7 separate regions of the Homo sapiens genome follow, and regions 2, 3, 4, 5, 6 and 7 are each reported to be linked to region 1. Evidence: microRNA targets listed by miRTarBase, many of them from high-throughput screens and not tested one by one. Region 1 holds a microRNA gene; each other region holds the end of a gene's coding sequence.
The links. Region 1 holds the annotated microRNA hsa-miR-8485 (CACACACACACACACACGUAU, at 2,647-2,667, shown strand). A microRNA usually pairs through its seed, bases 2 to 8, with sites in the 3' UTR of a target mRNA and lowers its output. Matches are read on the target gene's strand: a 7mer-m8 pairs with bases 2 to 8, a 7mer-A1 pairs with bases 2 to 7 and ends in A, and an 8mer does both.

Region 2: the mRNA of ZNF264 is a reported target of hsa-miR-8485. Seed matches in the 3' UTR shown: 7mer-m8 at 1,301-1,307, 7mer-m8 at 1,303-1,309, 7mer-m8 at 1,305-1,311 and 8mer at 1,307-1,314.
Region 3: miRTarBase lists CRLF1 as a target of hsa-miR-8485. Seed matches in the 3' UTR shown: 7mer-m8 at 622-628, 7mer-m8 at 624-630, 7mer-m8 at 626-632, 7mer-m8 at 628-634 and 7mer-m8 at 630-636.
Region 4: miRTarBase lists OVOL1 as a target of hsa-miR-8485. Seed matches in the 3' UTR shown: 7mer-m8 at 3,287-3,293, 7mer-m8 at 3,271-3,277, 7mer-m8 at 3,269-3,275, 7mer-m8 at 3,255-3,261, 7mer-m8 at 3,253-3,259 and 7mer-m8 at 3,251-3,257.
Region 5: miRTarBase lists FBXO9 as a target of hsa-miR-8485. Seed matches in the 3' UTR shown: 7mer-m8 at 588-594, 7mer-m8 at 590-596, 7mer-m8 at 592-598, 7mer-m8 at 602-608 and 8mer at 604-611.
Region 6: the mRNA of TBC1D22A is a reported target of hsa-miR-8485. Seed matches in the 3' UTR shown: 7mer-m8 at 1,879-1,885 and 7mer-m8 at 1,877-1,883.
Region 7: miRTarBase lists MDN1 as a target of hsa-miR-8485. Seed matches in the 3' UTR shown: 7mer-m8 at 1,371-1,377, 7mer-m8 at 1,373-1,379 and 7mer-m8 at 1,375-1,381.

Annotation. Positions count from the first base shown.
Region 1 is chr2:50,694,774-50,698,838 of GRCh38, reverse strand. MIR8485 (microRNA 8485) reads left to right here and starts at 2,577; the gene lies at 2,577-2,667. All of the region lies in intron 5 of NRXN1 (neurexin 1), which reads left to right.
Region 2 is chr19:57,212,667-57,216,731 of GRCh38, forward strand. It overlaps ZNF264 (zinc finger protein 264), which reads left to right. Exons shown (of 4, transcript NM_003417.5): 4 at 1-4,065. The coding sequence ends at 315. Among named protein-coding and RNA genes, the nearest start is that of AURKC, 16 kb to the right of the region's middle.
Region 3 is chr19:18,589,930-18,593,994 of GRCh38, reverse strand. CRLF1 (cytokine receptor like factor 1) reads left to right here. Exons shown (of 9, transcript NM_004750.5): 9 at 416-758. The coding sequence ends at 429. REX1BD (required for excision 1-B domain containing) reads right to left here. Exons shown (of 5, transcript NM_001100418.2): 4 at 3,062-3,141; 5 at 1,658-1,887. The coding sequence ends at 1,815. Among named protein-coding and RNA genes, the nearest start is that of REX1BD, 3.2 kb to the right of the region's middle. RefSeq lists enhancers at 438-939, 1,823-2,346.
Region 4 is chr11:65,795,135-65,799,199 of GRCh38, reverse strand. It overlaps OVOL1 (ovo like transcriptional repressor 1), which reads right to left. Exons shown (of 4, transcript NM_004561.4): 4 at 1,986-4,065. The coding sequence ends at 3,859. All of the region lies in intron 4 of LOC124902693, which reads left to right. Among named protein-coding and RNA genes, the nearest start is that of OVOL1-AS1, 6.3 kb to the right of the region's middle. RefSeq lists enhancers at 857-1,380, 2,960-3,460.
Region 5 is chr6:53,097,318-53,101,382 of GRCh38, forward strand. It overlaps FBXO9 (F-box protein 9), which reads left to right. Exons shown (of 13, transcript NM_033480.3): 13 at 405-3,556. The coding sequence ends at 513. Among named protein-coding and RNA genes, the nearest start is that of FBXO9, 34 kb to the left of the region's middle.
Region 6 is chr22:47,172,936-47,177,000 of GRCh38, reverse strand. It overlaps TBC1D22A (TBC1 domain family member 22A), which reads right to left. Exons shown (of 13, transcript NM_014346.5): 13 at 1,308-3,503. The coding sequence ends at 3,375. Among named protein-coding and RNA genes, the nearest start is that of TBC1D22A-AS1, 260 kb to the right of the region's middle. RefSeq lists an enhancer at 60-1,150.
Region 7 is chr6:89,640,751-89,644,815 of GRCh38, reverse strand. It overlaps MDN1 (midasin AAA ATPase 1), which reads left to right. Exons shown (of 102, transcript NM_014611.3): 102 at 623-2,318. The coding sequence ends at 811. All of the region lies in intron 1 of MDN1-AS1 (MDN1 antisense RNA 1), which reads right to left. Among named protein-coding and RNA genes, the nearest start is that of LYRM2, 4.0 kb to the right of the region's middle.

The sequences.
Region 1 (4,065 bases):
ACATTTCATAAACAATGAATAGCAAAAGCATGGATATCAGGAAAGAGAAAACCTTCTTTGAGGGCAATTTTAACTGGAGAAGAAAGTTCTACTGGATGTTTTCTAGGGAATAATGGAGACTAGTTGATGAGATTCTGTTTCAGTGGTTTTCACATTTTTGGATTCAAGATCCCTTTTTACTTTTTAAATGTATTGAAAACCTCTGAGAAGTTTATGTTTGTTGTATAGGTTATGTATATGTATTAGTGTTTACTCTATTGAGAATTGACTGAGAAAACATTTATATATTTATTAATTCATTTTAAAATAGCCACCACATTGCATGTTGCATGTTAAAATAAATTGTGTACTTTTATGAAAAATAATTATATTCCAACACTAAGATAATTTTGTGAGAAGAGTGACTTATTTTACATTATTGACAATCTCTTTGATGTTTGGCTTAAGAGAGCTAGATTCTCACAACTACTTCTGCAGGCAATCTTTTGTGATAGCATATATCCTTTGGCCTCTAGACAGCACCGTTGTATATTTGTGAGATGATGAAAAAGATTTTGGCCCTTGGCCCTCCCGAAAGTCTCAGGGACTACCAAATGTCCTTGGACAACATTTGAGGACTTCTGTCTTATACTGTCAACGAATATCTACTGAGCACCTACTAAGTGCCAGCACTGCTGTACGGGTGGGAAGTACAGGACAAACAAGACCATGACCCTGCCCGCACAATGTTTACTTTCTCATGAGAGAAGGAGGATTCTAAAGTGAAACAACTAAGATGATTTCAGATAATGATAGGTGTTATGAAGAAAATTAGACTGGTATTAGGATGAACTGTAGTGTAGATGGGGTTGTGTTGTTATTTAGAGCCAGATTAACGAAATTGGCTCAAGGCAGTGACTTTAAGTGAGAGTAGCAGGAAGTGCAGCCGTGTGAAGAGCTATGGAGAGCTGTCTACTTTGGGGGAACAGCTGGTACAAAGCACCAAGGTAAATTGAAGAGTTAAAGGAACAAAAGTGCCAACCTGGAGGCAGAGAAAAGAAAGAAAATGAAACAAAGATGTGGGCAGAACCTATTTTATTTGAGGCCTTGTAGACCATGGCAACCCAGGATTTGAATTATATTCTAAATATTATTTGAGGATTTGAAGAAAAGAATGATGTAATCTAATTCACATCTTCAAAACATCACCATAGTTGAGAAGTGAAGCATGGGCTACAGAAGAGCAAGGAAGGGAGAGAGGAGACCTTTCAGGGGAGTGTCGCGTTAGGTTCGGATGAAACCACAGAGGAAGTAACAGGCAGTCATTACGTTCAAGATGAAGGTACAACTGACAAAACCAATACATTAATTTTCCTTTCAGTCTGATTAAAATCCATTTCTCTATCTGACCATTTCTCTAACTTGTCAAGTTTCACTTTGAAAGATGCTCCAGTATTTCAAGGTCTTAACACTCTTTCCAACTTTTGTCACACACAAATTTAATGAGCATCCTCTCTCTTAGACATCATTGTAGCATATTAATCATATACTGTCCTAACTTACCTTATCAGCTTGTGACAATGAGTCTTTTCTAAAAAAACTTTTCCTGTATATTCAAAATGAAGACTAATGAAGTTTATTTATACAAGCTAAAAATATAACACTCAGAATTACGTGTGCAAAATATTCCCTGTAAAGTATATTTTATTTCTCTTTTTCACTTCCCATCTGCCCCTTCCAAATACATCTTTGTCTTCTGGTTGTTGAGAGGTTGCAGGGTATTCATATTGTCTTATTGCTGGTACAGTAGGACGTTTGTGTATGACCCAGCTTTGTTTGTTAAGGTGCTTGAAGTAAGTAATATGCTCTCAATGAGACAAAAGCAACAATTTGGAAACAAAAGTGGAAATTAACAATGCCACTGGTTTCTGTTTAAAGAATTTATGTATCAGGCTTTCATTGTGAATAAACTCAGTAAGCAGCTACTCAAATGATGTGATTACATGGTCTAGGAATATACTCTTGGTCTCCAAAATGACTTCTCTATGACTCCTGGTAGTATATGAAACTTAGTAATTAACACTTTCTACCATTTAAATCAAATAAATATGTTTATCTCTGTGAAAATTCAGGTATTCTTAAGAGAGCCTCACTGATCCTCACCCGAAAATTCATGCTTTGGTTTTAATGGGTGTGCTTGCTGGTTTCTCTACAGAGAGCTGCTTTGACAGTTGCAAGATAAAAGAAGAAATAGTTGCTCAGAACCACAAAGAAAATAAATAGACATTGGAAGAAGAGGCATAAACAGTTTTCTCCGCCTGCTTCACCCCATTGCCTTGGCTTTTCTTGTCTTTCTTCTACCTTATCACGACCTTCTTTAGCAAACTATGATTTAGCTTAGAGGAGAAGCATGTTTAAAGAGTTGTAAGACAGGTTTTCTTTTCTAACTCTCCATCAGAATATTACTTACTTCTGAGACTGTTTTTCTTATTTATAAGAAAGGAGATTTATAACACTGTCAGCTATCTGTGTGAAGAATTATGTACATTTCAAATTCTCATTTTTTCATATGTATAGAACATTTTATGGTCTTCAGTTCTGTGATATACGTGTGTGTGTGTGTGTATATAGCATATGTGTATACATACACACACACACACACACACACACACACACACACACACGTATATGTACTGTCTTTTAAAATTTCCATAGTCGACTGGGTGTGGTGGCTCTTGCCTGTAATCCTAGCACTTTCGGAGGCTGAGGCGGATGGATCACCTGAGGTCAGGAGTTCAAGACCAGCCTGCCCAACATGGTGAAACCCCATCTCTGCTAAAAATACAAAAATTAGCCAAGCATGGTGGTGGGCGCCTGTAATCCCAGCTGCTTGGGAGGCTGAGACAGAAGAATCGCTTGAAGCTGGAGGGCAGAGGTTGCAGTGAGCCAAGATTGTGCCACTGCACTCCAGCCTGAGTGAAAGAGCGAAGCTCCATCTCAAAAAAAAAAAAAAAAAAATCAGAGTCACTCTGGTTAGGCTTATTTCCCTAATCCTTTGGAATATTAGTAAAACTGAGGCTCAAAAAACTAATGCACAAAGTCATATGGATAAAAAGCGATATCTAACCATTTATCTTCAACTCTTCCTACTATAGCACGTCGACATTTATTACCGTGTTCTAGATAAAAGCCTTCTTAGAACTATTAACATATTTCACATATTTTAATCTCTCAAATTTTGTTTCTCGTTTTGTACAATAATTTGTGCTCCTAGAGGAAAGCAAAGACTTAGTCTAATCTCTTTGTCAAATGGAAATAGACTAATGTTACTTACTATGAATAAGAGACTATATCTCTGTCCCTAGCAAGATGTCTCTGGCTAAGGGATTACCCATAGTTAATAGAACCCAGGATCTATGAGGCAGGGCTACCTGGAGCATATGACATAAGGTACACCACTTTATGTTATATGATGCACCTTATCTGAACTTGATAGCTTATATCCTTGAAATTATTTAGCAAAGCTTGATGCTGGGCAAGATCTTTAATTCATGTGAGTCTGATTTGACAATCTAATCCTCACATTTGTCGGTAAATAATACAATTAAAATATTCTGAAGGAATCTCAAGTACAAATACCAAAGATAAGATGCCTTCCCCCCACCGCCACCCCCTTACCCAGGTTGAAATGTTACTGATAAAATATGTTGGTAAATAGTCTCCCTACTGCACTGGTGAAATCAAAGCCACCCTTAAGCAGTGAAGATGGCTAATTTAATTTCAGTAGTTATAAATCAAAATTAAGCCTAGGAAACTGGACCCATAAATGGCTGCAGAGAATCCAGCTGTGTTTATTCTAAAGGCACTCCCAGATCAATTTGCATGGAGGTGATTTGGCTATGAGATAAGGGAACTGTCTTTCAGCCCCATCAGTTAGAACAGTCACCAGGATCTAAAGTACCCAATCAAGAGAATACCCCGCAATTAATTTTTTATAAGCCAAGGAAAGACTATTGCTAAAATGTAGAATAAAGCCTTTATTTTGTAATGATTACTTTTGTTCCAGAGAGCATTTTCTGGATTAAA
Region 2 (4,065 bases), not on the chromosome of region 1:
ACAAACCTCATTCGACATGCCATTATCCACACTGGAGAGAAGCCCTATAAATGTAGTGAATGTGGAAAGGCCTTCAGTCGCAGCTCGTCCCTCACTCAGCATCAAAGGATGCATACTGGGAAAAATCCCATCAGTGTAACAGATGTGGGAAGACCTTTTACAAGTGGACAAACCTCAGTTACCCTTCGAGAACTTCTTTTAGGGAAGGACTTTTTGAATGTAACCACTGAGGCAAATATTTTGCCAGAGGAAACATCTTCCTCTGCATCTGATCAACCATACCAAAGAGAAACCCCACAAGTGTCTTCACTGTGAGAAAACCTTCTGTTGCTGAATATTACTTGTCATCTGAAGAGTCATATTAGAAATTCGTTCAGTCTAGAGCCTTATTCTCCATCTGATAATTTATCCTGGAGAGAGACCCAGTGGTTATTGTGCACATAGGAGAACCTTCAGCTGCATCTTTCTCCTTAGTTTACAGTGCAATTTTATCTCAGGAATTATTTTTAAAAGGAGGAGGGGACATAGAAAAAATGAAATGCAAGCACACATCTTTTCAGGCTTCTCTGCCAAGCCTATGGCGCTTTGTCATGGATTTCTTAGTGTATTTGGGGGAAGGGAAATGTTTCAAGGTAAAGAACCTTGACCCTTTATGTGCTTGTATGTACATTTATTGCTATCCAGTGTCAGAACAGTTAGTTTAGGAAAAGTATGCAAACTTTAATCGCACATCTTCTGTATTCCACAATAGTACTTACTCTTGAGAAGCATAACTTTATGACAACTTAGGGGGCTTGAGCCATGAAATACTCACGTTTAAGTCAGTAAGGATACACATGTTAACATTCAGGCTTTTGTCTTGATGCCCGTCTTTTGGTTTACGTCATCATTGTAGCCATATGGTAAATTTTTATTTGTTAAATTTTTAAAAATTACTTAGCTCAAAATGTCAGTGGTAAATTTTTAAATTGAGTAAAGTGATTCTTCTTTGCTCTTATTTAAAATCGACAGCATTTCTAGTTCCTTTGACATTCCATATAATTTTTAGGATTAGTTTGTACTTATTTACAAAACAGTCTTGTTCAGATTTTTACAGAAATTGAGTTAAGTCTGTGGATTAATCTGTTAAGAATTGGTATCTTTACTATGTTGGGTCTTGTAGTTCATGAGTGCAGGAGTAGGCCTCTTAATTTATAATAGTTAAGCATTCCTTAAAGTATTTCATTAATGTTAAAAATTTTCAGCGTATAGATCCCTATGCATTTTTGTTAGAATTTGCATCCTAGGGTGCTTTTTTGTTTGTGTGTGTGTGTAATTTGAGTGATTGTAAATGGCATTGATGTTTGAACTTTGAATTGCACACAATTTTTGGTAGTATACAGAAATATAATATTTTTGGACATTGTTTTGCTACCCTGCAACCTTATTGAGTTCACTTATTATTTTTAGCTATTTCTTTCGACAGAATCCTTGGAATTTTCTATATAGAAATGTCATCTGCAAATACAGACCATTTTTTATCTTTCATCTTACCTGTAATATACCTTTTATTTCCTTTTTGTTTGTCTTATTGCATTGCACAAGCTGGGACTTCCATTATAGCGTTGAATAGGAATAGTGAGAAAGGCCATCCTTACCTGGTTCCTGATAGTAGGGGGGACAATGTTCAGTTTTTTGTTTTTTTGTTTTTTGTTTGAGACAGGGTCTCGCTCTGTCACCCAGGCTGGAGTGCAGTGGCACGATCTTGTCTCACCATAGCCTTAAGTTCCTGGGCTCAAGTGATCCCCCCACCTCAGCCCTCACCACCCCCCAGTAGCTGGTACTACAAGCATGCACCACCAGTCCCAGCTAATTTTTGTATTTTTTGGTAGAGACAGGGTTTCACCATGGTGCCCAGGCTGGTCTTGAACTCCTGGGCTCAAGCAACCTGCTTGCCTGGGTCTCCCAAAGTGCTGGGATTACAGGCGTGAGCCACAGTGCACAGCATGTTCAGTTTTTCATCATGAAGTATAATGTAAGTTTTATAAAACATATGTCCTCTATAAGGGTAAAAAATTTCCTCTGTTCCCAGTTTTCTGAGACTCTGTGTTGCTATGAATAAGTGTGGAATTTTGTTCAGTACTTTTTCTCCACCAGTTGATGTCATTATGCTATTTTCCTTCTACATCCTATTGATGGAATGTATTGCTTTGATCAAGTTTTGAATATTGAGCCAGCCTTGCATCCTTAGAATAAACCATACTTGTTTGTAGAGTATAATTGTTTTTATATATCATTTGACATCATTCCCTTTGTTTGTATTTTGTTGAGGAAATATTCCTCTAATTTATTGGCTAATAATGTGTAGTTCTTTTTTCTTTTGTTTCTTATGTTCTAAATGTCTTATGTGTGGTTTTGATGTCTAGGTGATCTTGACCTTTCAACATGAATTGGAAGGAGTTCTCTTCTAATTTTTGGAAGACTGTGTAGAATTGGTGTTATTTGTTCTTGTCATGTTTGATGACCTCTAGTCAACCATTGGGCCAGAGATTTTTCTTCTGGAGGCTTTTAAATTACATATTTATTTTATTGGATAGGTAGAACTATTCGAAGTATCTATTTCTTGTGTAATAAATTTTGATAGTCTGTCCTGTTGAAGGAATATTTCATCTGTATTTGTAGCACTCCCTTATTCTTTTGATAGCAGGATCTGCACTTCTTTTTATTTTTAATATTTAAAATGTGCATACTCATTTTATGATTGAGTCTTCTTAGACATTTATCAGTTTTATTGCGCATCATGCTGAAAGATGTAATTTTTGCTTCATCTCTCACTTCAGAGAACTAGCACTTTATATTAATGATTTGTCTCTATTCTTGATTTCTTTGATTTCTGCTCTGATCGGTATTATATTCCACTTGCTTTGGTTGTATTTGGCTCTTTCTAACTTTTCAAGGTGGGGTTTTAGATTATTGATTTGAGATTTTTTTGCTTTTTTAATGTAAGCATTACATTGTATAAATTTACCTCATATCACTATTGGTTTGATCCCACAAGTTTTAATGTTTTCATTACATTTTAATTCTAATAGTTTTTATTTTTTGAGACATTCTCTCTTAGCCATGAATTATTTAATAGTATGCTTAATTTTCTGGTGTTTGGCATATTTGTTACTGATTTCTAATTTGTTCCATGTTTGATCTGACTGTTTAAATGTGTTAACATTTTTTTATGACCCAGGATAGGGTCTATCTTGTTTCGTATAGCTGCTTGAAAAGAATGGGTGTTCTGCTGTTACTGGGTGGAGTTTCTATAAATGTCTCTATGATCCTGCTCATTGTTATTCAAGTCAGCTATGTCCTTGCTGATTTTCTGTCCAGCATTTCTGTCAGTTGCTGAGAGGGGTGTTGAAGTCCTGAACATAGGCCGGGTGCAGTGGCTCACGCCTGTAATCCTAGCACTTTGAGACCACTAAGGCAGGTGGATCACCTGAGGCCAGGAGTTCGAGACCAGCCTGGCCAACATGGCAAAACCCTGTCTACTAAAAATACAAAAATTAGCCAGGCATGGTGGCGTGTGCCTGTAATCCCAGCTGCTGGGGGGCTGAGGCAGGAGGATCAGTTGAACGTGGGAGGCAGAGGTTGCAGTGAGCTGAGATCTCACCACTGCACTCCAGCCTGGGCAACAGAGCGAGACTCTGTCTCAACAACAACAACAAAAAGTCCTGAACATGATTGTGGAAGTGTGTTGCTCTTTCAAGTTCTATCACTTTTTGTTTGCAAAGTTCAAAGCTGTATTGTTTGGTACATATACATGTAGGTTTGCCAAGTCTTTGTGGTGAATTGACTCTTCTGTCATTATGTGATGTCATTTTTTTGCCTTTTAATAGTCTTGTCAATACTTTACCTGATGTTCTCATAGTGACTCCTGCATATTTTGATTAATGTTTGCATGGTTAATATTTCTTCATTTTATTTTAAAGCTTACCTGTATCATTACTTATGAAGTCAGTTTCTTTGAACAGCATATACTCAGGCCATGCTTTTTTTATTCATTCTGCATATGTCTCTCTTAATTGGTATGTT
Region 3 (4,065 bases), not on the chromosome of region 1:
TTCACACCCCCACGCCTCCCAACCCCAGCCTTAGAGTCGCTGAGATGGAATCCGTCCTCTTCCTTTGTTATTCATCAGCATTTACTTAGCACTTACTGTATAACTGGCATTGTCTCCTTTAGCCTAAGAACATTCAATGCCCTGAAAATGTCCGAAGTGGAATCTCCTCCGAAATGAATGAACATACTCACCCTAGTTAGCACGCATGGGCGCCTACTGCATACTGGCTCCGCGCCAAGTGCTTTACCTGCAGCTCAGATAGCCTCGCCAAGGCCCGGAGAGGGGCAGGACCCTGCCCAAAGTCACACAGCCAGAAGCGGTGGGGACAGGACACGAATGAAGCCTCCTTCAGTGGCTCTGTGGTGCGGCCCTCTCCTGGACTCCCTGCTTAGCTTGGCTTCCCCTCTGCCTGCAGGTCCTGCCAGATAAGCTGTAGGGGCTCAGGCCACCCTCCCTGCCACGTGGAGACGCAGAGGCCGAACCCAAACTGGGGCCACCTCTGTACCCTCACTTCAGGGCACCTGAGCCACCCTCAGCAGGAGCTGGGGTGGCCCCTGAGCTCCAACGGCCATAACAGCTCTGACTCCCACGTGAGGCCACCTTTGGGTGCACCCCAGTGGGTGTGTGTGTGTGTGTGAGGGTTGGTTGAGTTGCCTAGAACCCCTGCCAGGGCTGGGGGTGAGAAGGGGAGTCATTACTCCCCATTACCTAGGGCCCCTCCAAAAGAGTCCTTTTAAATAAATGAGCTATTTAGGTGCTGTGATTGTGAAGGTGAGTTTGGGGCCTGCCTGGCCTGGGGTGGGGGCTGTGAGATTTGAGGGGAATGTGAGGCGTCTTAATGACCCTTTGAGATTAGAATTTTCACCTCCCAGGACTTCAGACTGTCTATCCAGTATTTGCAAGGTCTGATTCTGAACTCCTTGGAGAATGTGATTCAAAATACCTGAGCTGGCTGGCTGCAAAGGCTCATGCCTGTAATCCCAGAACTTTAGGAGGCCAAGCTGGGAGCACTGCTCAAGGCCAGGAGTTGGGGACCAGCCTGGGCAACAAAGGGAGACCTCATCTCTACTAAAAGCAAAAAATTGGCCAGGCGCCATGGCTCACGCCTGTAATCCCGCCACTTTGGGAGGTTGACATGGGTGGACCACATGAGGTCAGGAGTTCAAGACCAGCCTGACCAACATGGAGAAACCCCGTCTCTACTAAAAATACAAAATTAGCTGGGCGTGGTGGTGCATGCCTGTGATCCCAACTACTCAGGAGGCTGAGGCAGGCGAATCACTTGAACCCAGGAGGTGCAGATTGCAGTGAGCCGAGATCGTACCATTGTACTCCAGCCTGGGCAAAAAGAGCAAAACTCTATCTCAAAAAAAAAAAAAATTAACTGGGCTTGTGGTGGCATGTGCCTGTAGTCCCAGCTACTTGGGAGGCTGAGGCAGGAGGACTGCTTGAGCCTGGGGAAGTCAAGGCTGCAGTGAGCCACGATCTCGCCACTGCACTCCAGTCTGGGTGACACAGCAAGACCCTGTCTCAAGCAAAAAAACCTCAGTTTCTAGGGAGGGTGGGAGTCTTCTACCCACAATCCCTGGCCCTGTGGGGGCCCCCTCCCTAGGCACACTGGCTGCAGCACCCTTGTACACAGAGATGGCAGAGCGGCTACAGAGGAGGAGCTCTTTATTGTGGGAGGTGTCTGGAACTGCAGGAAGGTCAGCAGCGCAGTGGGGCGCAACCCCAGCCAGCTGGCAGTTAGGGCTGGGCTGGGCGCCATCCGCCCCGTTTCCCATCTCCCTCGGCGCATCCCTGGGGAGCCGCCATCACTCGGCAGATTCCGCATCAAACCTAAGGTCCTGGAGAACCTCGCTGATCGCCTCCATGGTTTTAATTACCCTACAAGAGCGGATGGGAACTATAAATAAAACCCAGATGGGGTGAATTAGCTGCTGCCGCGAAGCTGCAAGAGGGCTGTGGCTGTGGTGAGCCCCAGGCCCTCCTGCCCGCCGCCAAACCTCCAGGCAGCACTAGCAGCAAGAGGGAACACTTAGGTGCTAGGGAGAAGGGGTGGCCCCATAGGTCACAGTGGGCTGAGAGAAAAGGCCATCTGGGCTGGGCATGGTGGCTCACGCCTGTAATCCAGCACTTTGGGAAGCTGAGGCAGGCAGATCACCTGAGGTCAGGAGTTCAAAACAAGCCTGGCCAACATGGCGAATCCCCGTCTCTACTAAAAATACAAGAATTAGCCAGGCATGGTGGCGGGCATCTGTAATCCAAGCTACTTAGGAGGCAGAGGTTACGGTAAGCCAAGACCGCACCACTGCACTCCAGCCTGGGTGACAGAGCAAGACTCTATCTCAAAAAAAAGAAAGAAAAAAGAAAAGAAAATAAAGGACCAGGCGTGCTGGCTTACGCCTGTAATCCCAGCACTTTGGGAGGCTGAGGTGGGCAGATCACGAGGTCAGGAGATCGAGACCATCCTGGCCAACATGGTGAAACCCATCTCTACTAAAATACAAAAAATTAGCTGGGCGTGGTGGCACGCGCCTGTAGTCCCAGCTACTCAGGAGGCTGAGGCAGGGGAATCACTTGAACCCGGGAGGCGGAGGTTGCAGTGAGCTGAGATCGCGCCACTGCACTCCAGCCTGGTGACAGAGTGAGACTGCATCTCAGAAAAAAAAGAAAAGAAAAGGCCATCTTGGTGGGGTGTGTACCATTAGGAGGTTATGAAGTGTGACTTTGTCAAATGTGTGTGTACATGAGTGTGTGTGCTTGGGGGCTGAGGACAGGCATCTGAAGGTCTGTGCTCAGTGGGGCATGTCCAAGCTCCACGGACAGCCACGTGTGCAGGATTGGCATGTGTCGAGGTATACAGCAGTGTCCCAGCAATGCACAGCGAAACTGATGTGAAGTTTCACGGCTGTGCCCTCTGGGGAAGTGTACATCTGAGGGCCACCAGGTGAGAACACCATTGTGCACTGGCAGAGGGTTCCTCTGCTGGCAGCGTCCTGACCGTGCCAACCCTGGTGCAAATCGAGCATAGCCAGGCGGCTTGGGCAGCAGCGCTCACTTCATTTTCAGCTGCTGCATCCGTACAGCGTCCTCCTGCCCCGCCAGCTCTGGCGTCTCCATCAACTGCAGCAGGGCCACCTGGTGGGGGAATGAGCAACACGAAGGATGTCTCCACGAGCAGAACCCACCCCCTGCCCTCCAAGGATGTTCAGGAAAAAACAGAGGCACCCAGAAAGGCAGTGCCCGGGTAGAACCACGAGGGGCAGTGCTTTGTGTAGGAAGAGTCCGAAATTCAGTTTAGAGGCTCTCTCAGAAAGGAGACAGCAGGCAGGCCAGAGGCAGTGCTGAGCGCGATGTGGGCGTGGCCTGGGAACAACAGTGACGTCTTAGCCAGGCATTGGCCGTAGGGGTGGGTTAGGTTGCGCCTCATGGTCCCAGGGACGGGGACCCAGGATAAAAGTAGGCCAAAAAGCCTGGACGCGGTGGCTCACGCCTGAAATCCCAGCACTTCGGGAAGCAGAAGAGGGCGGATCGCTTGAGACCAGGAGTTCGAGACCAGCCTTGCCCATATGGCACAACCCCGTCTCTACTAAAAAAAATACAAAATACAAAAATTATGCCTGTAATCCCAGCTACTCAGGAGGCTGAGGCAGGAGAATCGCTTGAATCTGGGAGGCGGAGGTTGCCGTTAGCCGAGATCGCGCCATTGCACTCTAGCCTGGGTGAGAGAGCAAGAGAGCAAGAGCCTGTCTTAAAAAAAAAAAAAAAAAAAAAAAACACCAGAAAGAAAAAGGCCAAAGAGACGCTGAGACGGGTCGCTCATGGGGGGCGTGGCCTAGGAATTCCAGTCACACACGGTTGCAGGGCCGAGCAGGCGGATCGCAAGAGAGAAATAGGCAAAGAACTAAAGCTGTGATGGAGGAATAATACGGAGGAGGCGTGGCCTGGGACCCCCCTCGCCTGTATCTACGGGAGGTTGAGGGTGGGACCCTAGACGCGGAACAACCAGAGTGGGTGGAGCATTGTTGGGGCGGGATCTGGGCATCTTGGAATAGCATTTAG
Region 4 (4,065 bases), not on the chromosome of region 1:
GTGGAAACAGGGACGCCTTCCACCCCGCTCCTGGCTTCGCTCATCTCCCCTGGTGTCTGAGCCCACTTTCCTTCCCCGAAACACCTCCTCCTCTGTTCTACTCACATCCTCCTGTTCTTCCAGCCCAGCCGCAGACCCACCTCTTCCAAGAAGCCTTTGTTCTTTCTGATGCAAAAGACTGCTTTTGGGTTCCATAGTGTTTGTAGTTTGGCCACGCCATTTGTTCTGGGTTAGATAATCTCCTCTCTTTTTCCCAGTCAGCAGAGCCCTGTACACTTTTCATTTCCCTCACAGCTACAATCCAACAGAGCCTGGAGAATATTCTGGGCCTGGAAATGTGACTGGCCCCGCCCTGCTAGGGAAGAGCTCTTCTGGGTGGCACAGGGCACGGCACCCACCTGAGCTCATCTGAGGCATGGGAGGGAGTACAGAGGCTCAGAGGGAGCCTCTTCCACCCCTACACTGCCCCTGCTTCCTGGAGGCTGTCCTGCCTCCTGAAGTTCATGTGGTGGGTAGTCCCCTGGGTTCCCAACAGCGGGATGCACGTCTTGGGATAGGAAATGGGATTTAGTTGGCCTTTCACAGAGAGGCCTCTCTGGATAAGAGAAATCCTTCATGGCCAGCTATTTAGAGACAGAAAATTGGTTGGGGCCCTTTTTAGTCCTGTGGGCGGCTACAGGGAGCCTTGGAAAAGGATGTCTTCCCTCGCCTCACAGCGCCTGGTACCAACCCTTCCCACGCCTCCTGGAACAAGACCAGCGTCCCAGACCTGTAGCTTTCTTATCCATCTGGCCAGGCCATGGTGGAAAACACGAATTGGGACCCAGGGACCAGGGCCCCCAAAGAGATCAGTCTCCCAGAGCAATCCTGGTAAGCGATAGGGAAAGCCAGGCAAGCTCCAAATTTCCTAGTTTGAATTGCCTAGAGGGACCCTACGTCCCTTCCTGCTTTCTCCATCCATAGCGTGAGCAGTTACCGAGCAGACCCTGGGCCAGGCCAGGCGGGTGGCAGCCTAGCTCCACTGCTGGTCAGTTGTGAGACACTGTGTCAGCTACCCAAATTCTGTCTGCCAGGGTGGGGGTGGTCACAGAACCTGCCTCAGAAGCGAGTTGAGTCAAGTGAGCCAATATACATAACACACTTCTGAGTGTGCATGGCACAGCACAAGGGTTGTGCAGGTGCAGCCGTCCCTCGGTGCATGGACACAGGTGTGGCCGTCCCTGGGTGCCTGGACACAGGTGTGGCCATCCCTCGGTGCATGGACACAGGTGTGGCTCTCCCCAGGTGCCTGGACAGAGGTGCGGCCATCCCTCGGTGCGTGGACACAGGTGTGGCCATCCTTAGGTGTGTGGATACAGGTGTGGCTGTCCCTCGGTGCGTGGACAAGGTGTGGCCGTCCCTAGGTGCGTGGACACAGAGTGTGGCTGTCCCTAGGTGCCTGGATGCAGAGTGTGGCTGTCCCTAGGTGCGTGGGCACAGGTGTGGCCATCCCTAGGTGCATGGACACAGCATATGGCTGTCCCTAGGTGTGTGGACACAGAGTGTGGCCGTCCCTAAGTGTCTGACCAGAAGTGATGTGAGCTTTGCACCCTCTTTTTGGGACTGTGGCTCCTTCTGTGGTCTAACCCTGGGAGGGTCCTGGGAGGCCAAGACTGGATCCCCGGGTGACTACATAAAGCCTGGCGGTCTCGGCCTGGCAGAGGTAGATGCAGGGTAGTATGAGGCTGATGGATGGAGCTCAGGGCGCCCCGCTGCTGCCGCTGCTGAGAGCAGAGCATGCTAAACCAGGACTCAGCAGGCAGTGACTGTCTGAGGCCCTGGGCAGGTCACTTAAGCTATCTGGGCCAGGCTCTTGTCTTGACCAGGGCCCCCCAGTGACCGTAACGAGGAAGGGTTTGGATAAGAATGTGTCAATTGTTTCCATTACTTCTCTGCATGGGGAAAAAGGGGCCCATAAGACAAAAACATCGGAAACACAGAAAACATTAGATCTCTAATTTTAATAGTTGAGAGGAAGGTTATAAAATAAAACAGACAACACAGAGCTTCATGACGGCCTCGGATTGGCAGTCAACCCAGGGATACAGAAATGTAAACAAAAACAGAGCTTCCAGATAACATTACTGTGTGCTATGTGACTTTCAGAATACAGCAGCGTCCCAGACACTCTAAAGTCAAGTGAAACAAGAGATTTTAGAATCAATCTATACACATTTCAGAGGGCAGTCCAGGAAGGAGCCTTCCTCTCAGGTCAGCCCAGGGCTGGGCCTGAGCCTGAGCCCGGGGACGTGTAGACACTACCCATTTTGGGCAGGGGAGGCCAAAGTGGTTCTGCTTCAGGTGGGGTTTGGCTTTAAGGGGCTGCCCAGCTGGCTGTGTTCTGGGGACCTCTTTTGCATTTGCCTCTGGCAGGCTGGCTCTGACCCCTGCCTGTTTTTCCCTTTGGCCCACAAGACGCACACCTCTTTACACCCAGAACCCCTTTCCCAGCTGCAGCAAGGGAGCAAGGGAGCCAGCCAGCCAGCCAGGACGGGTCTCCCCACAGCCACTCCAAACCCCAGCCTGGTCAGGTGAAAAAGTCAGAAAAAAGGCAACAGATACAATTTGGTAGCCATCAAATCCTCTCCTCCCTCTGGAAGTTTCTGAGGTGCTGGTCATCATTCTGTCCCATTTTTTGCCACTGTGCTAAGGCTTTTGACTCAACCAAGAAAAGGGCCGGTCTTCCAGCCTGGCCCTGCAAGAGTGTCCTAGTGCTTCAGGTAGTGGATGGGCATCGTCATTCGTCCCACCTTCCTGCCCCCTAAAGCCCCAGGAGGACACACTCTCAGCATCAGGCCAGCTCTCCGGGTCACTGGGGCTTGGCTCAACAGGATGTGCAGGGCAGAGCCGGGAGGGAAGAGCAGAAGATGCCATGGGCTGTTCGCAGGAGCAGCCGTCCAGGGCGCCGCTGGAGGAAGATCTTCTAGTGGCTGTCTCAGCACGTACAAAGAACGGGGGTGGGTTGGGGCAGCCCCCGCCCAGAGCCAAGGCACAGAGGAGGTTTGAAATGTCCAGGATAAATAGAAGCGCACGGGAATGGAGAAAAGCCAGCTCCATCCCACTCTTAAAAACATCGCCATTGGCACCAAAAATATATTAACATCTGTACATTTGTCATCTTTAAAAAATAAAAGGAAATAAAACCTTCTTGGCACCTTGTAGTTTATTTCTTAGAAATGAGGTGATATGTGGAAAGGCTTCCTGTGCGTGCACACACACACAGCAGTGCACACACACAAGCACACGCACACACACGGCTGGGCACACATGTGTGCCTCTCCTTGCCGGAAGGACAGAGCCCTCCAGAACCCTGAGCATTAGAAGCCCTGCCAGGTGGGGGGTCTGCTGCCAGCCCCCACCACAGTTGTTTGCAGGGGTACCCTTTGCCAGTGCTTTTGACTCTGATGTCCACTGGGGACCTGCAGCCCCTGCCCTGTGCTGAGAGGCGGGGGCAGTGGGATCCTAGCTCGAACCTCCTCTGGGTAGGAAGTCCTGCTGCCAGGCACACAGTGCCTGTCTCTGTGGGCGGCTGCTTCTAATTGAAGGCAGCCTTGGCCTCATCCCTTCTCTTGACATAGGTACATCTTCCCAGGCTCAGAACAGCCTCGGCCCATAAGTCAAAAATGCAAAAATGAGCAGAGGTCATTGCTGGGCCTGAGTGAGCACGTGTGCCCAGGGGGGAGACCAAGGCACGGGGGCTCCAGTCCTGATCACTGGTGTTCGGGTGAGAGGTTGCAGGAGGGTGGGCTGGCCAGGCAGCTGGGAGGCAATCCTGGATGCTCTTGGGGCTTCCAGGAGCACCCCCAGGGCTCGAGCCACTCACAGGTGGGGGCTGCCCTGCAGCAGGGAAGTGACAGTGTTCTGTAGTGCCACGGCCACCTTCTTGGAGGTCTTGCGCAGCAGCGGGCTGTCAGGGTGGTGCTCCTTCAGGTGCAGGACGTGGCCCTCCTGGCTCTCAGATGTGCAGCCGCACTCCTCACACACGTACAGCTTGGCCCGCCGCTCCTTGTACGCGTACTTCTGCTG
Region 5 (4,065 bases), not on the chromosome of region 1:
TTTTAATTGAGAAATAGTAGACACAACCTAAATCTCCAATTAAGTAAACTGTGGTACAAGCAGACAGTGAAATATCATCCTGCCACTAAAAATGGTTTCTGAAAAATAATGATGTGGGAAAATACAAATAATTAAATGAAATAAAAAGAATTACTAAGTTTGATCTCAAGAAACACTAGAAAATATCCTTCATATGGCTCTGAGTGTTGGAATTGTGGTGATGTTTCTGTATACATTTCTAAATTTTTCGAGTTTTCTACAATATGCCTATATTATATAGAATTTCCTAAGATGAATTAAAAATAAAAAAGGCTAAAGCATAGAATAACCTTCCCCAAACACACAAGGATTTTAAATGAATTGAAATTTCCTCATACTAGTAATTTTGTGCTTTTTTTTTACAGATCAACTGGTGAGACTGCAGTCAGTGCTTTTGAGATTGACAAGATGTACACCCCCTTGTTCTTCGCCAGAGTAAGGAGCTACACAGCTTTCTCAGAAAGGCCTCTGTAGAGCCTCAAGTCCAGTCCTCTATCACTTTTGCATGAATTAAAGTATATAGCGCAAAAGAGCACCTAAGTTATAAATGTGTGTGTGTGCGTGTGTGTGTATATATATATATATATATATATATATATATATATATATATATATATATGGAATTGGAACTTATTTTAAATTGTTGGAGTTCTTTTAAGAAGAATATAAATTGATTATTTTTTTTATTTAAAGGGATAGTTGATTCCTGGGGTGTTTTGAAATTAAGTTGGAATTAAGTTGCTTAAGCATATTTATGTTGTGAGAAACCTTAATATGAGGTTTATCATGCCCTTTTTCAAGCAGATTTATGAGCAGATTTCTGTCACATAAGTCGTCTTCTGCTTGAGTATCCTAATATTTCAATGCATCAGGGGAGCGCTCCACTGGATAAGCATTTTATTTCCCGCATGGCATAATGTTTTTGCACTAAAGGCTCAAAGTGTGAGAACCTGTTCTGGATTTGTTTGAAATTATTTCACCAATAAAGATCATAAATAAATGTTTCTTTCAAGAAAATATATTTGGATGGCCTTTTTAAAGTAACAGGATATTTAATAAGAGTCCTAGATAGCCAGCGGAGACTTTAAGAATCATTGCCTCTAGCTGGGTGTGGTGGCATGCACCTGTAGTCCCAGCTATTTGGGAGGCTGATGCAGGAGAATAGCTTAAGCCCAGGAATTTGAGTCTGGGAGTTTGAGTCCAGCATGGGCAACATAACAAGACCCCATCCCTTATTAAAAGAAAAAAAAATAATTCCTCATTTCATCATTGGTCTTTATATGTAGCCACAAACACTGACCTCATGTAGGCACCTTACCAATATATGACATTAAGTGAGAGTGAATCCCTTAGGACTGGAACACTTCAAGCTCAACCAACTGACTCAGTTGTCATTCTTCACAAAAGAATAGTAGAGGATCATGTAAACCTGAGCCTAACTCTTGTTCCAGTATGAAAGTTGGGGGAGAGCACCAGCCACCTAGGAAAACTGTATGTTACCTTTTTACTCAAAGGAGTCCCCCCTGCCCAGTAACAGTCCTATTAGTGTTTAATTTCAGAGTTTGTGTCTGGTAGACCTCTACCTGATTCAGATTTGGTTTTGTTGTTTCAACCATAGTTAGAGACAAATTCTCATGTACTTTCAGAAATCAATATCTGCAGCCACTGTTACTTTTAATTGACATTAAGAGACACTTCATAGGTTCCCACAATTCAGTATGGGATAGGCTTTTTAAAAAGCACATACAGACCAGGCGTGGTGGCTCATGCCTATAATCCCAGCACTTTGGGAGGCTAAGACAGGCAGATCACCTGAGCTCAGGAGTCCAAGACCAGCCTGGGCAACATGGCAAAACACCGTCTCTACAAAAAAAAAAAAAAAAAAAATTAGCCAAGTACAGTGGGGCACACCTATAGTCGCAGCTACTTGGGAGGCTGGGGCAGGAGAATTGCCTGAGCCTGGGAAGTGGAAGTTGCAGTGAGCCAAGATCGTGCCATTCCACTCCAGCCTGAGCAACACAGTGAGACCCTATCTCAAAAAAATAATGATGATAGTACACGTTATGTTAAAGGTGAAATGTGCATACAGAAGGAAGAGAGTTGGCCAGGTGTGGTGACTCACACCTATAATCCCAATACTTTGGGAGGCCAAGGCAGGAGGATTGCTTGAGGTCAGGAGTTTTAGACCAGCCTGGACAACATAGCAAGACCTCATCTCTTCTAAAAATTAAAAAAAAAAAAAATAGGCATGGTGGTACACACCTGTGGTCCCAGCTAGTTGGGAGGCTAAGGCAGGAGGATCACTTAGCCAGGAGGCTGAGGCTACAGTGAGCCAAGATTGCACCACTGTGCTCCAGCCTGGGTGAGAAAGCGAGACCCTGTCTCAAAAAAGAAAAAAAAGAGAGGTTGGCCTTTTGTAGCAATCTGAGAAGTGTGTTTTTCAAGTTGGAAAGGAAGGAGAAAAGCAACTTGCCTAAGATAAGGTAGCTCTTCATGATATGACTGTTATTTCTGATATACAAATAAATAGAACATGATTAGGACATAGTCAAATATAGCTAGAAAAATATATTCCTAAGGAAAGTGAGATTTGAGGAGTCCCTGTTGTTCTGCAACATCCCTAGATTGAATGATCTGTTGCAGATGGTGGATACCAAGTTCAAATTTAAAGATTTCTTTGTAAGCAGTAAAGTGACTTTCACTTATTTAACTTAGAACTGGAAAAAGTAACTTTTTTCCAGATTACATTTTCTGTATATTTGTAAAATGCAAAAGCAATATATATTTGTTGTGAGAAAATTAGAATATACAGATAAAATAAAATTTAAAAAAACACCCAAAGATAACCAGAAGAAAATTTTTGCTATGTAACCTTTTTCTTCTGGTCTTTGCAAATCCTGCCGTAGAAACTTTTTAACTTCAGGAGTGTCCTTCCTTTGCTCTATTAGGACATTACAGAAACCAATACTATGAAAAGCTGACAGCAGTATCTGGATTAACTTTTTAAAAACAATGAAAGCATTTTACAGAAATTACATTTCAGATCGTGCTGGAACTGTGTTCAGAAGATATCCTCAGAGGGAATCTGGCCTGAGCACCATCATGTTTAATTGCCTCCTCCTGTCTTGCATTTTCCTCCCAGCCCCCTTCCTACCCCTTAGCAGAGGGCCAGGTGAGGGTGCTTGGGGCCCATGGGGGCTGGGAGTGTAGACTTCAGTTACACCCCCAGCCCCCAGGGGAAAGCATTAGCCTTGAATCCTCAATCCCAGGCCCTCTACTAACCACTCTCAACCTATGGTATTTATCTTTTGATTATTCTGTGCATCTATAAAAATGGGATTATATTGTACAGAATGCTTTGTAAGCTTTCTCTCCCCACATAAGAATGCCCTGTAAGCATTTTGTTAAATATTTTTAATGACTTTAGAGTCCAACTTTATACTCCTCTTTACGCATTTTGGTTTTCTAATTTAATGGTAGTGTAAACGTTTTTGGAATAAACATTCCTGTGGCTAAATCTTTGCATACTTCTTGTATTATTACTTTAAGATGTTTCTAAGAAGTAGAATGACTGAATCAAAGAGTGAACATTTTAAAATATCTTAAAATATACATTTGGTAAATAATGTATACACTGTAGAAAAACTGGAAAATAGATGAGCAGACAGAATAAAATGTAAATTACCTGTAGTCACCTCATCCATTATTCACTTTTTGATTTTAATCATCCTGGCCTTTCACATGTATGTGTGATTTTTCAGTCATACAGTGAAACACTTCCAGTTCTGTCTCCTTTATCTGATGCTTTCATGCTCTGGATCTTAAAACCTGGCCAGTCATTTCCCCAGTGATGGATGCTGAGTGTCAGCAACAGCTCTAGGTAAGTTGGCAACCATGACATGTATGGGCTAAGGCTTGCAAGGCTTCTCTGGCCACACAGAATCCAATTGCAGTCAGAGCAGAAACAGAAGCCAAGGCGATGCAGTGGGATCCCAGTTTCACAGTGACCATCCATTGGTCACTGTG
Region 6 (4,065 bases), not on the chromosome of region 1:
GCCAACTGCTGAGCTGCAAACTCCGGGGAATCGTGAAGGTGAATGGCAGTTGCTGGGCTGTGACCTGGAGTCAGGAGCTGAACACCTGGTGGCTGCTGGGGACAGCCGATCTCCGTCCTGCAGCCTACGACCCTGCAGACCACAGCCAGGCAACAGTGAGGTCAGCCCATGTGCCGGGCCACCGGGCCCAGGAAGGCAGCCCTGCCTGGCTCAGCTCCGCACTGGGTCACTGTGGAAAGAGAGGTGAAGAGGCTACTCCCACTTTGTGGAGCCACCAGCCCACCCGTGGGGACAGGAGCACACCCCACACCTACGGGGACAGGAGCACACCCCACACCTGGTCAGTAGTGCGCACCCCACACCCGTGGGGACAGGAGCACACCCCACACCCGTGGGGACTGGAGCACACCCCACAGCCGGTCAGTAGTGCACACCCCACACCCGCGGGGACAGGAGCACACCCCACACCCGCGGGGACAGGGGCACACCCCACACCCGCGGGGACAGGGGCACACCCCACACCCGCGGGGACAGGGGCACACCCCACACCCGCGGGGACAGGGGCACACCCCACACCCGCGGGGACAGGGGCACACCCCACACCCGCGGGGACAGGGGCACACCCCACACCCGCGGGGACAGGAGCACACCCCACACCCGTCAGCGGACAGCACAAGGCAGTGGAAAGCCAAGTGCTGCCAAGGGAGGGTCCCGAGGGTGGGGCACCCAGGGGGGTGTGGGGTACCTGAGGGTGGGGCACCCAGACGGGGTTACTCAGAGGGGTGTGGCGCACCTGGAAAGCTGCCCTGAGAAACTGAGGCCCTTTGAAGGGCCTTGCTTCAGTAACACAGGGCAAGGAGGGTGTTTCAGTGTGTGGGTGAGGGTGAGGCAAGTGTATCCCAGGAGAGGCGGGGGGGACCCCAGACCCTGGTGCCTACCCCGGAACAGCCCTTTTCAAAGCAGGTGCTTGACAGATGTGGCCCAAGGGGAGGTCCCTTGTTCAGGAGCCTGACAGGGGCCAGCCTGGACCCCACACTCCCGTGTTCCAGCTAGTGCAGAGCCGGGCTTCGGGGGTCAGACTGGTTTCTGAGTCTTGCCCCGCCCGGGCAAGTGGCATCCCTGCACCACCTGAGCAGCTGCAGCCCCATCTCCCTGAGAGGTCCTGCGGGGGGCAGCGAGATCACGGGTGCTGCCGGGCCCACGCTGGTGCGCCGCAATGGCCCTGAGCTCAGACCCTCGGCAGGGCTGGGCCAGGGTGCCCCTGTCCTCGATGGGCAAGTCCTCGAATCACAGGCCAAGGCCGCGGCTTTGTCACTGATCTTTATTCCGTGTTTTTAGCGCACCACATCCAGACAGCACACCCCGAACATTCCAGATGGATCTGCTCAGACTTAAGGCCCGCGGCCAACACCTCTCACATTCAGTCTTGGCGTTTACATACATGAGGAAATGCACACAGGGCTGAACTCCGTGGAGCTTCCTGTTTAAAACATCAACCACCTCGAGAAGCAGGTCAGTTGTGTCCGCAGCCTTCTGGCCACACGGCATGATCTGAGCTGGAGAAGGGGATCCTCCCAGGGCTGATCTCGGCAAAGCGACATGGGGCTTCCTGCACACGGCCGAGGGGCGGCTCTTCTTGTGACGGAATCCCCTCCCCATCTAGAAAAGGAGGCGGCAGGAGGAGGAGGCATGGCTGGTCTGAGGAACCCTTGACCCTGGGGTGGGGACACGGAAGGCAGGGGTAAGGCGTGCCCGCATCTGATGTGAAGCAAGCCCATCCCTTTGCTGGTTTGGGAGCATCTGACGTTTGCACAGCATTTTGTGCTAATTTCCATGCTGTGTGTAATGACCCTGGATTTTTAAAACAGAAGCAGAAACACACACATCACTTATGCCTGTATGTCCCACAGTCTCTGGCAGTGTCCTAGGGCCTGGGAGAGGACACGGCTGCTCCTGAGGGACAGAGGAGAGTCTGGGAAGTCAGTCACCAGTGGGTCGCTGAGGACGTGAGCCTGTCCTGGGCTCAGGGATCAGACAGACTGTGGCTGTGGCCCTGCCCGCATTCCAGGGGTCATGCAGCCTGTGACACACCGAGGGAACGCTGGGAAGCCAGTCCCAAGGCCCCTGGAGCCAAGGACACAGCCCTAGCAGGGCGCTGGGCAGGGACCAGCTCTGGGCCCTTCCGCACTTAGAGCCCCAAGGAACCAGTCCACAGCGGGAACCAGTCCAGGGCAGAACCAGTATACAGCGGGAACTGGTCCACGGCGGGAACCAGTCCACGGCAGAACCGGTCCAGGGCAGGAGTGGTCCAGGGCAGGAGTGGTCCATGGCGGAACCGGTCCATGGCGGAACCGGTCCACGGAGGAACCGGTCCATGGAGGAACCGGTCCATGATGGAACCAGTCACACCTCCCCTACACCTGGCAGACCTGGACAAGGACAGCAAGTCCCAGGAAGTCTCCAAAAGCTCATTCCGCTTCCAGGCTGCGGTGAGAAGAGCACTGTGGTTCAGGGCTTTGATGACAGGGACGCGACCCCCTGCCCGTCTGCCAGCCCAACATGGCCCGACAGCCTGGGTGGGCCTCCAGGGGCTCTGGCTGAGGCCGGCGCCTACCTGCGTGGCGGGGCCACTTGGCCCTGGACCTCAGGGAGGTGGGGGTTTCTCTCTTGTAAAAGAGGTTCAAGGTGGAAAGTAAGGCGATGGCGAGGCCTCCCTCTGCTCCCAGCCTTTGGTCCCACGGCCTCCCAGGCACTCGGCGGGCTCACGGCTTGGACTCCAGCCTTCAGCTTCCCAGCCACGTTTAAACCAAGCAAGCAGGAAAACACACGGAGGGAAAGGGCCAGCAGCAGTGAAATACAGCTGTGAGGGGACCTCGCGGCACAGAGACCCCGGGTCAGCGCAACGTCTCGGTCTAGATTTTGTCTACATTTTATTCTTTCACTCAACAGAATAGAAGTTTTGCATTTCAGAGTAGGTATGAGATGGCCACTACCTCGTTCCGGCCCTGGCACCCAGACAGCAGGACTCCAAAGAGGGTCGGCCTCCTAGGCTGCCCCGGACTAGGGGCAGCACGAGGCAGTCATTTGGCAAGGACATTGCAGGGAGAGGGAGAGGGGACCCCTGACCTGCCTCTGGCCGCCGAACCCGGGGCCCTCCCCTGGCTCTCTTTGGTATCTCAGAAAACAAAGGCTGTCCCTGTCTTTGTCAGCCCTAGACCAGGTCTGTGGCCCATCTTCACCAGCTCCCCTGGAGGGTGGGGCCACCTCACAAGGCCTTTTAGCAGCCCGGGACCAGCTCACAGGGGCCTACCACCAGCCAGGCAGGTGGGGCGCGCCACCCGGGACAGTGAGGCCAGCTGCGGGTGGGCCTGGGCTCATTTCTTGTAGTGATTGGGGGCGTCGGCAAAAGCAAACTTGAGGCGGTAGGCCTCGGCCAGCAACAGGCTGATGTCCTCATCATCCCAGTGGGCTGTGGGCAGGTTCTGGAGGAAGAGCAGCAGCTCCTGGGGAGAAAGAGACAAGCCCAGGTCAGAGGAGGTGACCCACGGTGGAGGGCGGGTGACCCCAGAAAACTGGAGGGAAAGATACAAGCCCAGGTCAGAGGAGGTGACCCACGGTGCAGGGCGGGTGATCCAGGAAAACTGGAGAGAAAGACACAAGCCCAGGTCAGAGGAGGTGACCCACAGTGGAGGGTGGGTGACCCAGGAAAACTTGCCCAGCCGGCAGCTGCTCCCTGCTCAACCCCAGAAGGGCCCCAGGCCTCGCCCCACGGCCACCGCCCCATCCCAGCAGCCAGGCAGGAGGCCCACTGCGCAGCTCCAAGTCCGGCATCTGAGATGTCGTGGCAGGGGCCGCCCAGAGCTTCATTTAACTGAATCCCCTGCCCCTCAGGGGGAGACCCAGCTCTCGGGGCCCTGCTGCAGCTTTGCAGCCTCCGCCCAGGAGCTTCCCACTCCCACAAAGCCTGTATCAGCCCAGGAAGTACCGCAGCACCCCTGGAACTGCCACTAAGCACAGATTTCTGTGCACCAGGAGACCCCTCCGGGCACCAGCACCATCAGCAGA
Region 7 (4,065 bases), not on the chromosome of region 1:
TATTCCCACTTTACACTGAAGGAACTGAAACACATAGAGGTTATAGGTAATGAGTGGGAGAGCCAAGATTCAGAATGACCATCCTCTGTGGGTCATCATTTCCCTCTATGCAAAGTCAGTGCAGGTATTGCAGCCTTGATAATGGGTACTGACCACTTTGAAATGGAGATTAGGTGTTGCCACACTTAACTTATGTCTCAGTAGCTCCTCACAGCAAGAAGCATCAATCATCTTAGTGAAATATGCCTATAGGGCAGTTCTGTTCCAGGGAAGCATTGTCTCTGTGGGTCACATTAAGGCCTTGATAGGAAGGTAAAGATTTAGTGTGAATGATTCCAAGTGGATGATGGGGAGACACCACTGTAGGGAAAGCAGATTTTCCTGTCTATCCCTTTTCCTTTTTTTCAGTGTCCATCCTCCTGGAAGGGGCACTCAGAAAGACATCTACCTCCTTCTTAGTAGAGTTCTGAAAATTCTCTTTTACTTAGTAATAAAAGGTAGGTTCATATGCAGGAATAAGACACAGGAGATGTAAAAGTTAGCAAAAGAGATCACAGAAGAGCTAGCTAAGGATGCTGGTTTAATCGCTGCCTCCCCATTTCAAAATGTCTTTTGTTGACAGGATTCTATCTTGGACATTAAAGTACCGATATTTAAAGGACCTGGAGAGATGCCTGAAATCCGATCCTACATGGAAGAGTTCCCATTCCCATACTATATCATTCTTCGAGATGTAAACGCACTTCCTGAGACACTCAGCGATGCCCTCAGACAGTGGTTTGAGTTGGTGACAGCCTCTGACCACCCATAGAACAGAAAGAAGAGTCCAAAGTGAGACTTAACTGTGGTCAGAAGGTCACATTGCTTACCCAGGTGCTCCCTTTTGGACAACTACAAAAAATTTTATTGTAATATTTTTATTTTACAACGTGATCTTACAGCCTACAGAATGCTCTCTGGCTCCCGGCTTTGCCTGGGCTGAGGTTTTTATACCAAACCTGGAAGCAGCAGCAGGTGCCTGAACTCGTAACTAGAGAAGAGTTATCCTTCTTCCCTGCCTTGGAAGCCCTGGCCTGGGAGGAGGTCATACCCCACCGTTGGAGCCCAGCTGCCTGTTTTCTTTTGCAGGGGATCTGGGCACCTGTGCCTTGAGGAGATGCTGCCAGGAGCATGGGACTCTGACAGTCCTTTGTATAAAGGACTAAAGGGAGCTGCCCTTTTGACCCTGTTCTAAGCTCTGCCTTGCCAAGCCCATAGTGTGTGCCCAAAAGCTGTCAAGTGGCCAAGACAGCTCGTTTCTGGAGAGTATGAGGGTGTGTTTTCTTATTGTGAAAGGAACTACCTTCTCTTAGAGGGTAGGAAGAATGTGGTGTGTGTGTGTTCTCATAAAGCAACTGGACATTATAGGTGCCCAGGTCATCTATAAAAACGATCCTTGGGCTGTGTAAAAATGAAGTGGCTTTTCAGTATCCTCTTTCACACTTGCTGCTTCGGGAGACTATGCAATGATGGGAAGGTGATTGCCCCTTTATTTCATTCAGTGCCATGGTCCCTGTTGTTGTAGTAATTTATTTGTTTAGTTCATTTTTTTTTTTCTTAACAGTCAAGGGGAAGAGTGATTCCTCACACTGCTTTCAAGCTGGACTGAGCCAGTCTCATTCTGGGAAAGAAACGCTGTGTCCAGAACTCAGCAGCTCCATCTATTTTTTCCAGTCGAAAGAAACTGATCTTTAGGCAGTTTTTACTTGGCCAGAAAGCAGTGCTGAATACTTGAAACTGTGTGCTCTGTTCTACTTAATGTTCTGTCAGAATGTTCTTTTGTAGGCAGTATGTCATGATGTAATCATCTATCTCCTTGTCTGTTTCCAAGTTACACTGTGAAGTCTGCGACCCTTTTGAGGTGGTCATCAAAGACACAGATTCCTTGTTTAACCAAGTGTCCCAAAGCATGTACCTGAAGTTATATCATTTTTTATTCTAAAAAGCTATGCAGCTTATATTCTGAAAACTATTAAAACATATACCACTGTTGTTGATGTAATTTGTGACTCTTCTTAATGGAAGATGACAGGATTGTAAAAGGTATGCTAGGGGACTGATCTTCTCTGCTGGATCAGTCAGTCAGCTGTTACTAGTTGATGCTGTGCTAACATGATCCCCTCCTACTTCCATGTTGCTCTTACTACAAAGGTTATCATTTGCATTTATGTCCATGGTAGGCTGAGCTATAATATGCTGGCTTTGCAGCAGAATGAAAAGGATGAGTTGGTGTAGCCTTATAAGGAGGCTTATAAAAATTAATTATCCTCCATAAATGATGATGTTGCATCCCACTCACATTTCATTGGCTAAAGCCCTCTATGGGGCAGGGAGTTTAATCTTCCAGTAGGGTTGAGTCTGGGAGGGAAAGACACCAATATTATGACAATGCTGCAGTCTATTACATCTGCCTTTGGAAGCTCCATCTTTCTTAGACCTCAAACTGGTGTGCCCAGAGTGATTCCCTTGGCCCTGGGTTAGCTCATGAGATCATGGACAGTAGGAATTCCAGGAAGCAGGAACCCAAGAGTGCCATTTTCAACTTGTGCTGCCAACAGGGGCTTGCAGGAGTAGTGATCAATTAATCTGCCATGTTGATAGTTGACATTTGTGCTATCCTGCCCACCCCCCCCTCCCCCAACCCCCCAGGCCTTGGCCAAATAGGTAAGTAAGTAAGTTCTGATATTTAAGGAATGGACAGCAGAACACAAAAGTCCTCCATGCTGTCTTAAAAATCTCACTTTGGGGCTGGGTGCAGTGGCTCACGCCTATAATCCCAGCACTTTGGGAGGCCAAGGTGGGTGGATCACTTAAGGTTAGGAGTTAGTTTGAGACCAGGCTGGCCCATATGGTGAAACCCCATCTCTACTAAAAATACAGAAAATTAGCTGGGTGTGGTGACGCGCACCTGTAATCCCAAGCTACTTGGGAGGCTGAGGCAGGAGAACTGCTTGAACCAGGAGGTGGAGGTTGCAGTGAACTGAGATTGTGCCACTGCACTCCAGCCTGGGCAACAGAGCAAGACTCTATCTCAACAACAACAATAAAATCTCACTTTGGATAACTTCTTCACCACTCCCGTGGCCTCCACCATCACTGAAGCAAAAGGACTGTAAAATTCTCCATCCAGGGGTCCAGGAAATCTACTCTTTGGTATTCTTAATTATATTCAGACATCTGCTGGATGTCACTGTGTTCTAATTCCCCTATTCCAAACCCATTCCTTCAACATTCCCCATCTGGGATGACCACTCCAACAGCCACCCTGTTTACAAACTTGGGACTTAACCTATACATCTGCTTTACTTCCTTCTCCATCTCTATCCATACCCCAATCAAATTAATTAATCATCTTGTCCAGTCAGGCTTCTGGATATCCTGTCCCATCCCTCCCCCTCCCCCTACTGCACTGTGACTGGGACTCTTTTAATCTCTAGCAGGGACTACTTCAATGGTATCCTGGCCAGGCCAGTAACTTCTCTTTGCTTGCTTCACTTCATCCTATTCACAACATCCAAGATCTTTCTAAAAGTTCTGTAGCTGAAAATCCCTTCAAAGCTCTCCCTTGTGAAGAGGGTAATATTCAAGCTTCTTCATGTGACCTGTGAGGCTCTTGCTTGACTCTCCTGTCCCTCCTCTCCCAGCATTCCTGCCAGTGTTTCCATGTGTTGTCTGGAATCCTCTTAGTGATTCTGCGTTTCTGACAAATACCTAGCTCAGACAAGCCCTCCAGGAAGAATAATTTCCCACAGTATGAACTGCAGCATTCTTTGTTAGCACTATATTGAACTTAGAGGTTTTCCTGCCCAAAGCATGAGTCTTTGAGCAAGGAGCATATGTGACTCACGACAGCATTACCAGTGTCTAGCAAGAGTGAGCCCTTTTTTTTTTTTTTTTTTTTTTTTAAATAGAGCTTTGCTCTTGTTGCCCAGGCTGGAGTGCAATGGCGCAATCTCGGCTCACTGCAACCTCCGTCTCCCAGGTTCAAGCGATTCTCCTGCCTGAGCCTCCCAAGTAGCTGGGACC